Homo sapiens: one gene and its partners. The protein of the gene in region 3 interacts with the protein of the main gene of each other region in a biochemical or structural test. Each region holds a gene or a part of one and is shown on either strand. Other genes may lie near its edges. The genes, in order: EHD3, RFFL and MICALL1.

Region 1 (3,749 bases), on a different chromosome or scaffold from region 3:
AGGACCAAAAAACAGAATATTTTAAGTTCAGCTGAAATTCCACCTCCTCTACAAAGTTCTTTGGACTTGTTATCCAGCAGGCATTTCTCCCGGCCATGAGATCTTGCTGCGGTGGCCCTGCCCTCCCCTCTGACTCGCATGTTGTCTGCCTTATAGTAGACATGCCGTGTTGATCTTTGCGCAGAACGCCTGCATTAGGACTGTGCTTCTTCCTGCTAGGTACCTGCTGGAACAGGACTTCCCAGGCATGAGGATTGGGCCTGAGCCCACCACAGACTCCTTCATTGCGGTGATGCAGGGAGACATGGAGGGGATCATCCCTGGGAACGCCCTGGTGGTGGATCCCAAGAAACCCTTCAGGAAACTCAACGCCTTTGGCAACGCCTTCTTGAACAGGTGAGTGTGGAGGGAACACAACACTTTCAGGTGCTCTCTTTTCTTCTTGGGGTATGGGGAGTGAAAGAACAGTAGGCAGGGTCTTGGGATGCTTGGTGCCTAGAGTCTCCTGTCAATCTTTCCATACCTAGATTGTCCCTTGCTTGCTGAGAGTGTAACTGAGTCAGTTGTGAGATGCAGCAGCTGCAAATGCTGGGTTGATTCCTCCTTATCAGGGAGCAGGGAAGGATACAACAATGACTCAGGTCACATTCCCCTACCCTGCACCTACCCCTAGTAAAAGTGGAGGAGGATGCTCCATATAGTTCCCAGTATTTGCCTAAATATTCAGTGGCTGGGATTTGCATCCAACTGGAAGGAGGCAGACGAAGGTTCTTTTCTATTCACGGATATTGTTTCTACCTGGTGGGAAGAACCCTGGAATTAAGAGGGAAGCCTTGGGTTTGAGCACTAACTCTTCTACTAAATTGAATGACCTTGCACAGGTCACCTCTCTTCCCCCGGGACAAGTTCAGCCTTGCAGATACCAAGATCATCATGATGATGTGAATGGAGAAAGCTCTAGGAATGCTTGGCAAACTAATCTGGGCCTTCACATTAATTATTCTGTTTAACCAGAATGCAGGCTGATCCCCTGCTCACACTTATTACACTGATAAATCCAGTTTCACATGTGCATGGTAAATACTTTGAAAATAATTTTAAAACTACTTTTTCTAATTGGAGGTTTTTAGAGTAGAGGTAATGAATATGGGCTTTGCCTTCAGATAGACCTGGGTTCAAATCCTGCCTAATACTGTGGCTCTTGAACAAGTTACAAAACTTACTTGTTTCTAATTTTTCCCATCTGTAAATAGGATAATAGGAGTTAAAGGAGAAATAAGTGGGATAGTGAACAGAAAACACTTCGTGCCTGGCACATAGTAACCAACAGGTTAGTTAGTGATAGTGTTACTATGTCTTATTTCATTTGATTACTTAATTGTTTAGTGAATGGAATAGGCATCTGCTGTGGCCATTTTTCATTGTAGAAGTTGAGGCTCATTGCCCAAAGGATTCTCGATGTCTCTTATCCCAAATATATATATATATATATATATATATTTTTTTTTTTTTTTTTTTTTTGATGAGATGGAGTTTCACTCTTGTTGCCCAAGCTGGAGTGCAATGGCGCGATCTCAGCTCATCGCAAACTCTGCCTCCCAGGTTCAAGCAATTCTCCTGCCTCAGCCTCCCGAGTAGCTGGGATTACAGGCATGTGCCACCACGCCCGACTAATTTTGTGTTTTTTTTTTTTTTTTTTTTTTTTTAGTAGAGACAGGGTTTCTCCATGTTTGTCAGGCTGGTCTCGAACTCCCAACCTCAGGTGATTGACCTGCCTCAGCCTCCCAAAGTGCTGGGATTACAGGCGTGAGCCACCGTGCCTGGCCCCAAATAATATTTTTTATAAACCTATGAACTTGTCTCTGACCTTTCTTGTAGTGGCATGGAGTCAATAACAGTCTAAGACAGGGACAGGGAGACCACGACATGAATGAAATGTGGAACTGTGAGTGGCCAAGGTGTGCGCCCAGAGTAGGGAGCAGAGGAAGGGTCACGCTGAGAAATCTTGGGAACTTGGCCTGGCAGAGAGAGAGGCCCAGGCATGGGGCTTGGTTTATGTTGGGAATGAAGCTGAGGTCCCTTTAGGAAGAATGAGGAGGTCGTGGTGGTAAGGTGCAGTGGGGCAGGTGTCCTGGAGTCCAGGGGTGTCTCTTATACCTGGAACTGAGTAAGGAGGTCCTGGATGCCCAAAATGCTAAAATGCATAAATGGAGGGGGTGGGATGAGCATGATTCAGGAGAATGAGTCGCTGGAGCTGAAGAGAAGCAGGGATATCTGAGCAAGGGGGTAGGCAAGGAATTTGATTTTGGACACATTGAGTTTGCAGTGTTAGTGAGTCAGCTGAGGAGCATCGTCCTATCTGAAGGCAGAGAGGAGGAGCTGGACCCCAGGGGAGAGGAGGGAAAAGCCAGGGGGAGACAAGAGGAAACTGGGCTCATCACAAGAGAAGAGTACAGGTTTAGTGGTTAATGCCATTTTGGGATAATTGTGCTTATAATGATATAGTGTATTGTATTATATGTAATAGCATATAGCCTATTATGATAACAGAATTTAAGTGATTGCCATCATATGCTGGGTGCATTCCTGAGAGCTGAGCGCCCTTATGTCATTAATCAAACCCAGCAAGTCTCATTAACTCCATTGTTAAATGTATTGAAACCAGGTGGTGTGGGTGAGGTTGGGTGGGGGTGGTTTACTTTGAGTAAAGACACCTCTTTGAATATTATTATCTTCATCTAGAAAGTGATAAAATGTAAATAATCCATTCCTGCAAATGTTGTGTGTTGTGTGAAGAAGATCTGAGAGAGAAAGGAAAAAATATATAAATCTTTACAGTGGTTACCTTTTTTTTTTTTTTGAGACGAGGTCTTGCTCTGTCGCCCAGGCTGAAGTGCAGTGGCATGATCTCAGCTCACTTTAGCCTCCATCTCCTGGGTTCAGGCAATTTTCCCGCCTCAGCCTCCTGAATAGCTGGGGTTACAGGCATGCGCCACCACGCCTGGCTAATTTTTGTATTTTTAGTAGAGACAGGGTTTCACCATGTTGGCCAGGCTGGTCACAAACTCCTGGCCTCAAGTGATCCGCCCACCTTGGCCTCCCAAAGTGCTGGGTTTACAGGTGTGAGCCTGTAACCGGCCTACAGTGGTTCCATTTAGGAAGTGGAATTGAGCAGGGCAGAAGGATAGAGAAGAGGAACACCTTCCTATTTCATTTTATGCCTTGCTGGACCATGTTTTGGTTTTTTGTTTTGTTTTGTTTTTTGTTTGTTTGTTTTTTACCATGTGCATATATTTTACAAAAAAAAAAATTATAAAGAAAATATATAGGAAGGTGTTGTGAAACAAATAACATGCACATAAAAGGTGATACTATTAAGGGGTCAGGAATCTCTCTCTAAATCTGTGATTTCAATGAATAAAATGAAGGTGACTGAGGCAAGATCCTGCATTTCCAGAGTGACTTGGTGTCTGGCCTGGAGAGCAGACATTGACAAGGAAAGAAATGTGGCCACAGGAGGGGCTGTGTCTCCTGCCTCCTTCCCAGGTATCTTACTAAGGGATAGAATTCGTGTTTTATTTCAACAGACACCAGGCCCCTAGCGGCCTTGGGCTCTATTCTGTGGGGGAATATAAGGCTGATCCAGTCCAGTGGGCACAGGCTTGGAAAGAGCCAGTGATAACCCAGGCAAGAGGAAGAGCAGGCCTGACGAGGCCTTTGTGGGAAAGTTGGCATTTGACCCTGACATT
Region 2 (3,749 bases), on a different chromosome or scaffold from region 3:
ATTATTTAATTTGAGGCTTACTTTATTTACTCCTGAAGCACCTGAGGTATTAATTAAGACTACCAGCATAAGAATCAAAAAGCTCTGCATTTTTATTAAGCCTCCCTCCCTTATTTCTTGCAGTATCACCTTGGGTGTGTAATTTAGCCTCTCTGGTGCTCAGTTTCCACATCTGTAAAATGGGGGTGATAACAGTATCTACCTCATGGGGTTGTTGTGAAGATTAAGAGAGAACCCATTTAGCATATCTAACACAAAATGAGTCCTCAACAAGTGTAAGCTGTTTTATTATAGCTAGGAAATATTACCTAACGGTGACAGCCAGGATTCAAATCCTAAACTGTAATTATTTCTGCATGAAGGTTATGGTGGTGGTGGTTGTTACAATTAATATTAATTTATTGAGGTGCTTCTATATGCTAGCTTGTCATTTAATTCTCAAAGCGACATTGCAAAGTAGGTATTAGTGTTCTTCCCTGATTCACAGACAAAGCAACCGAGGCTTAGGGAGATCAACTGTTGTATTCAAGGTCAGGCAATAAACAGGAGAGCGGGTATTCACACTCAAGGTCTGTTGGAGGCTAATGCCCATGATCACATTCTTTCCACCAGGCCATACTGCATAGCTCAGTTCCATTCAAGTACAGAGCAGTTCTGAGTCAAGGGCCTGGCTTCCATCTCCAAATTCCCCACCCACTGCTCCATCGACACAGGCTCCCCACTCCAGGAAGGCCCACTCAGAGTGCTGGGAACCCAGTGGTGCTTACAAGCATATCCAAGACAAATATTTAGACAGCAACGGGAGGCTGTCTGGACATCAGGGTACTCTCGTTCCTGAAAGCACAGAGTGTCTCAGTTAGGCAACAAGAGCGCCTGATGGGCAAGCTGGTACTGCCTGGCAGCAGCTAGTCTGGCAGTCGCTGACAACACAGGAAGGCTTACTCAGCCCACAGGAAGCAATCCTCGGCCTCTCACCCCACAGGCTGAGTGAGCACAGTGACATCCGGCTGAGCTCTGTTCTGGCCAAGAGCATGTCACATCCCCAACAAGAGAGGTAATTCCTGAGCACACTGGGATTGGCCTGGAGGGCACCCTCATTAATCCTTTAAAGAAGTTAAAAACTTTTCATCCTGTGTTGACTTAAGTAGTAACTTAAATATTTCTGGTCCATCTTTTCGAAATATAGAAAGATATTCAAGCTAAAAAAGAAAGCTCAAGAGACAAGATTCTCATAGTCAAGATCACAGACACTCTGGGCTGAAGTAAATGTCTGCATAGTTAAGATAGTTATATAAGTTTTGTCTAAGTATCATTCACATAGTAAAGGGAAAAGGAAATAATATTTACCACCCAGTTTTGGCTATTAAGACTTAGAAGGCATTGCAAAGGGACATATATCAAGCTCCCTAATTCTCCATACAGTTATAACCAAACAATACTGTTCAGAGATGGACTTAAAAGGATGCATGGCTGCACTAGCATTGTAACGGTTCTGGGACCAGTAGCCATGCAGGCAGAAAATGGATGTTTTCAGGTATTTGGGGTTCATTCACATCTAAAGCTTTTCTATTGGGAAATGAAGTCTGTTTAGGATGACTGAGACTGAAACAAAGAGGCTTCAATGCCATAAACCTGTGGGCCTGACATGGAATATTACTTAAGTCGATGCAGTCTGACAAGACCTAGCTTGACACAATTATAAAGCCTGCGTTGCTCAATCAGCCAGATCCAAACAACTCTCTATTCTTTCTTCAAATGTGTGTGGCTTGCTGGATGCAAGATCAGAATGCAGACAACAACCTAGCTTCTATGCACCCGCTGGCTCACAGGGAACTCTGAAATAAGCTGGCATCTGAAACACACCCTACAGGAACAGGATAGGGCTTGAGGCTAAAACCCCAGTTTGCAGTGGCAGAAGAAAACAAGAAGAAAGGAAAAAAGGGCTGTCAACAAATGCAGGCAGAATGAGCAAAGGACACACTTATGTATAAATTCTGCCGAATGGTTCAAAACAACTCAGTAACCAGGTAGCATGAAAGATGAATTAGTGGAGGCAACCAACATGCCTGCAGAAATGCCCAGGGTGTACTGAGATATCCAGCATCACAGAACTGGCCGTGGCGCCTCAGGCCGACACCACCCTTCAAGGATGCCGTGTGCAGGGTTCTGCTGGCTCCCGTTTGCCAACTGCCCTTCCCTTGCTCCTACTCCCTCCCACCCTATTCCCTGGAATATGGGAAGTATTACATGAGAGAATGTATATAAAACCTTAGCACAAAGTGGATGCTCCAGAAAAGGTAACACGGTTACCTTTTTCTTTCCCCTTACCAGCACCTAAGACCCAGTCCTCTCTTAACACTCTGAGATCTGAATATCACTTCCATGGCTCCAAGCATAACCTCATCCTCCAACTGGTCCAACTAAAGAGGCTGGGTGCCAGACTCCCTCCAAAACCGTCAGGGTCGCTGCTAAACCACAGGGAGGTATTACCAATAGAGATGGGGTATTTGGCTTGTGGCAAAAGTACAGCCTGCCATTTCTCTTTAGGACTGAAAACTCAGGGAATGCAAGGGCCACATCTTACTTATATTCTGTCTATAAAGTCCTGAATGTTATCTGTGCTTTGCACCCAATAAGCATTCAGAAAGTACTGACCATAATGAAGAATAAGGAAAAGAAAAAGATAGTAGGATCCATGGAATCATTTCAATTCAAGCACTTCTAGAAAAAGACATTTTGAAAGCCCCTGGGTGTTAAATGCCAAACCCTTAAGATAAGAATGCTGATCCACTTAAGCATGAAATTACAAATGAAAAATTCTCATAGATGAAAACACCCTTAATATTCACAAAATTCACTGTAAATTGCACAAAATTAACTCATACTTTTGTAGCAAGAAAATATTGTAGCAAGAAAATATTGTACCAATAACCATCTTTTACCATCCAAACTGGAATTTTTCTTCCCCTCCAGAAGCTCTTGTTACACACACTTTTCTTTTGTCACATCGTATGGTGTGCACTGTCCTCACCTCCCTGTCCAACTGCAAGCTCCCCGTTAAGCAGCAATGGCCTTCTTCATCTCTGCCTCCCTAGCCCAGGCAATTCCTGATACACAGTAGATATTCAGTAATTCATTTTCCAATAAGTAAGAAAAAAAGCACCTTATTTTAATCATTGCCATGCTTTTCTAGGCACCCAGGCCTGTAACTGTCATCTTCTACTCGACATGCTGAATGTCTTCTGGGAGGGGCTTTGGAATCAAGGACCTGGGTTTGAATCCCGGCTCTGTCATTTAATAACTATGTGATCTTGAGCACTACTGAAGTCAAGGGAAAAGAATGAGTATTTTAATATCTCTCATGCTATTTGTCAGGAATTTAACACATTCAATGTTCTTCTTAAATTTTAAACCCTAAGCCCTAGTTTCTCATATGTAAAATGGGATTTGGGAGATTCTAAAACCTATATCATAGCTATTGTGAGGATTAAATGAAATAAAAAAATTTAAATTCCTTAAACAGTCCTTTGCACATAGCAGATGGTTTAAAAGTATGATTTCCTCTCAAATTTCCCATGATCACCATTTTAACATCATATCCTATCACTTATTCTGAGCTGCAAACCTCTCATTCTGCAGAAAAATGCAGAATGCAGGAGTTCTTTATCCAGGTGAGGGTTTACCTTCTGCCTAGTCATGCTTGATCACAGATAACTCACTGCCTCTGGAAGAGGGAGGGTGCACACCTA
Region 3 (3,749 bases):
AGAAACAAGAGATTCTTTGGCCCAGAGCAGTCAGAGGTCCCTGAGGAGGAAGAGGCCATCACCCAGAGGATCCCTCCCCTTAGTCATCTTCCTCCTGACTGATCTGAGGGGAGCAGGGCGCCCCCTTCAAACAGAGCACAGCCCAGGAGCTGCTCCAGGAGGGGGCAGTCCCCAACTGGCTTCTCGTGCTGTTAGCTCTTGTCTCTGGGGGACTTGCTCTTGGCATCACGTTTGTTTCCTAGCAGTTTCAACATCTTCATGGTCTTGAACTTCCCCTTCTTCTTGCCCTCAGGTTCAGCCTCCCTCTGGAACTCTGCAGCACAGAGAGGGGAGCACTTAATAAAGTGGAGAAGAGGGGTACATCCAGGGCAGGCTAGACCCAGTGACACAGGCCTGGGCATGGGCAGCAGGGCTCAGCCCAGCCCCACCACTTCCTGTGTGGAGCCTGGGAGGGACAAGACACTCACCTTTCCCAGCCTCTGTCTCTTCACCTAGAGGATGGGGCCCATCCTCCCCCTCCCCACCTCCAGTGTTTGGGGAAAGATCAAGATGGTCAGCACATGTAAGAGCTCTGCTGAATCCGGGAATTCTTTTTTTTTTTGAGACTGAGTCGCTTTGTCGCCCAGGCTGGAGTGCAATGACGCGATCTTGGCCCACTGCAACCTCCGCCTCCCGGGTTCAGGCGATTCTCCTGCCTCAGCCTCCCGAGTAGCTGGGACTACAGGCAGGTGCCACCACGCCCCGGCTAATTTTTGTATTTTTAGTAGAGATGGGGTTTCACTGTTAGCCAGAATGCTCTCGATCTCCTGACCTCGTGATCCCCCCCGCCTCAGCCTCCCAAACTGCTAGGATTACAGGCATGAGCCACCACACTCGGCCTAGAATCCAGGAATTCTGAAGCATGGCATCCATTTATCTTTTTCTTTTTCTTTTTTTTGAGACAGAGTCTCTGTCGCCCAGGCTGGAGTGCAATGGTGCGGTCTCAGCTCACTGCAAACTCTGCCTCCTGGTTCAAGAAATTCTCCTGCCTTAGCCTCCCAAGTAGCTGAGATTACAGAAGTGTGCCACCACACCCAGCTAATTTTTGTATTTTTAGTAGAGACGGGGTTACACCATGTTGGGCCAGGCTGATCTCAAACTTCTGACCTCAGGCGATGAGCCCGCCTCAGCCTCCTAAAGTGCTGGGATTACAGGCGTGAGCCACCGTGCCTGGCCCCACTTATCTTTTTTTTTTTTTTTTTTTTTTTTGAGACGGAGACTTGTGCTGTCGCCCAGGCTGGAATGCAGTGGCACGATCTCGGCTCACTGCAACCTCTGCCACCTGGGTTCAGGCGATTCTTCTGCCTCAGCCTCCCGAGTAGCTGGGATTACACGCAAGCGCTGCCATGCGCGGCTAATTTTTGTATTTTTAGTAGAGACAGGGTTTCACCATGCTGGCCAGGCTGGTCTCGAACACCTGACCTCGTGATCTGCCGGCCTCGGCCTCCCAAAGTGCTGGCATTACAGGCGTGAGCCACCGCGCCTGGCCCCCATTTATCTTTAAAAGGCTGGATTCACCCAGGCTGGTGCCCACAGCTCTGTTACTTACAACACAAACGCTGTCAGAGCAAGAGAAACCTTCAAAATCATCTGTCTGAGCCCCTAATTTTATAGACAAGGAAAATGTAGGCCTTTGAAATTGACTAATACCAACTGAGCCCTTTGTAGGGCCAGGGCCCTCAGCTAAGTTTTACACATTATCTCAGTAATCCCAGCACACACCTGTGAGGGGGTGCCATTTTCACCCGCATTCTGCAGATATGAAGAATGAGACCAGAGTGGTAGAGTGGCCAGCTCAAAGTCACCCAGCTCATAAGTGCCAGAGCTGGGACTAGAACTCAAGTAGTCTGACTTGGCCTGAGTCAAGACCTAACCACAAGGCCACAAAGTGAGGTACTGGTAAAACCAAGACCAAAACCCAAATCCTGGCCAGGAACACTGGCTCACGCCTGTAATCCCAGCATTTTGGGAGGCCGAGGTGGGCAGATCGCTTGAGGCCAGGAGTTCGAGACCAGCCTGGTCAACATGATGAAACCCCGTTTCTACTAAAAATACAAAAAAATTAGCCAGGGCCGGGCGCAGTGGCTCACACCTATAATCCCAGCACTTTGGGAGGCCGAGGCGAGCGGATCACTTGAGGTCAGGAGTTCAAGACTAGCCTGGCCAACATGGCGAAACCCCATCTCTACTAAAAGTACAAAAATTAGCCGGGTGTGGTGGCAGCTAATCCCAGCTACTGAGGAAGCTGAAGCAGAATTGCTTGAACTTGGGAGGCGGAGGTTGAGTGAGCTGAGATCGTACCACTGCACTCCAGCCTGGGTGACAAAAGCAAGACTCTGTCTCAAAAAAAAAAAAAAAAAAATTAGCTGGGTGTGATGGCATGCGCCTGTAGTCCCAGCAACTCAGGAGGCTGAGACAGGAGAATTGCTTGAACCTAGGAGGCAGAGATTGCAGTAAGCCAAAATCACACCACTGCACTCCAGCCTAAACAACAGAGTGGGACTCTGTCTCAAAAAAAAAAAAAAGAAAAGAAAAAAAATCCTTTGACTTACAGTCCAGTACTTTTTTTTTTTTTTTTTTTGAGACTGAGTCTCGCTCTGTCACCCAGGCTGGAGTGCACTGGCGTGATCTCGGCTCACTGCAAGCTCCACCTCCCGGGTTCACACCATTCTCCTGCCCCAGCCTCCCGAGTAGCTGGGACTACAAGCTCTCGCCACCACGCCTGACTAATTTCTTGTATTTTTAGTAGAGACGGGGTTTCACCGTGTTAGCCCTGATGGTCTTGATCTCCTGTCCAGTACTCTTTTAACTGTTTCAAGCACCACTTGGTCCCCAGGAAGCACTGCTATTTGGGCCCACGGACTCCAACAAAACCAGCTGCAGATCTCAAGGGGGAATGCACAGCTGAGGGCAAATCCACCCTGGGAAGATGCCTCCCATATACCACAGTCGTCTCTGTAGGCATCAGGGCATCCCACGGCTACCCTCCAAGCCTAAGCCACAGCCTTCCTGGCTGTATGCTGGCCTCTCTTGCTACACACAGCCCTCTCTGCACAACAGAGGCTGCGGAGTTTGTGCACAGCCATCCTGGTAGTGCCCACTCCAACCCTCCCTTCAACCAGTCCCTCCCTTCCAACCCCAATGCCGAAGTTCAAGTGCTCACCAGCCTCATCCCCAGCAAGGGCCTCACCTTTCTTCTTGATCATGGCTTCCAACATCTTGTCTTCCTCTTCCTCCCTGAAATAAGCAGCAGCAGTTAAGCTGGGCGTGGTGGCTCACACCTGTAATCCCAGCACTTTGGGAGGCCAAGGTGGGTGGATCACCTGAAGTCAGGAGTTCGAGATCAGCCTAGCCAACATGGTGAAACCCCATCTCTACTAAAAATACAAAAAGTAGCTGGGTGTGGTGGCTCATGCCTGTAATCCCAGCTACTCGGGAGGCAGAGGTAGGAGAATCGCTTGAACCTGGGAGACAGAGGTTGTAGTGAGCCGAGGTTATGCCATTGCACTCCAGCCTGGGCAACAAGAGTGAAACGCTGTCTCAAAAAAAAAAAAAAAAAAAAAAGCAGCGGCAGCTGAGAGTCCTACGGGAGGAAGGAGCAGATGCCCTCTCTGTCCACACAGGGCTGAGCAACGGTGCACTGGGATCGCTGGTAGGAGGGCAGGGCTGGCCTGGCCTGAGGCGTGGACTGTGTCTTTGGCTCTCCAGGG

Evidence for each region.
Region 1: the proteins of MICALL1 (region 3) and EHD3 form a complex in vitro, tested with the Homo sapiens proteins (one study listed by BioGRID and IntAct).
Region 2: of the proteins of MICALL1 (region 3) and RFFL, one has a biochemical effect on the other in vitro, tested with the Homo sapiens proteins (one study listed by BioGRID).

Annotation. Positions count from the first base shown.
Region 1 is NC_000002.12:31,244,055-31,247,803, forward strand, and holds part of EHD3 (EH domain-containing protein 3), read left to right. Parts: intron 1-219; coding exon 220-396; exon of another isoform or gene 397-798; intron 799-3,749. UniProt on the Homo sapiens protein: ATP- and membrane-binding protein that controls membrane reorganization/tubulation upon ATP hydrolysis. In vitro causes tubulation of endocytic membranes. Binding to phosphatidic acid induces its membrane tubulation activity.
Region 2 is NC_000017.11:35,022,020-35,025,768, forward strand, and holds part of RFFL (E3 ubiquitin-protein ligase rififylin), read right to left. Parts: intron 1-3,749.
Region 3 is NC_000022.11:37,937,273-37,941,021, reverse strand, and holds part of MICALL1 (MICAL-like protein 1), read right to left. Parts: intron 3,277-3,749; coding exon 3,230-3,276; coding exon of another isoform or gene 3,203-3,229; intron 314-3,202; coding exon 192-313; 3' UTR 1-191. UniProt on the Homo sapiens protein: Lipid-binding protein with higher affinity for phosphatidic acid, a lipid enriched in recycling endosome membranes. On endosome membranes, acts as a downstream effector of Rab proteins recruiting cytosolic proteins to regulate membrane tubulation.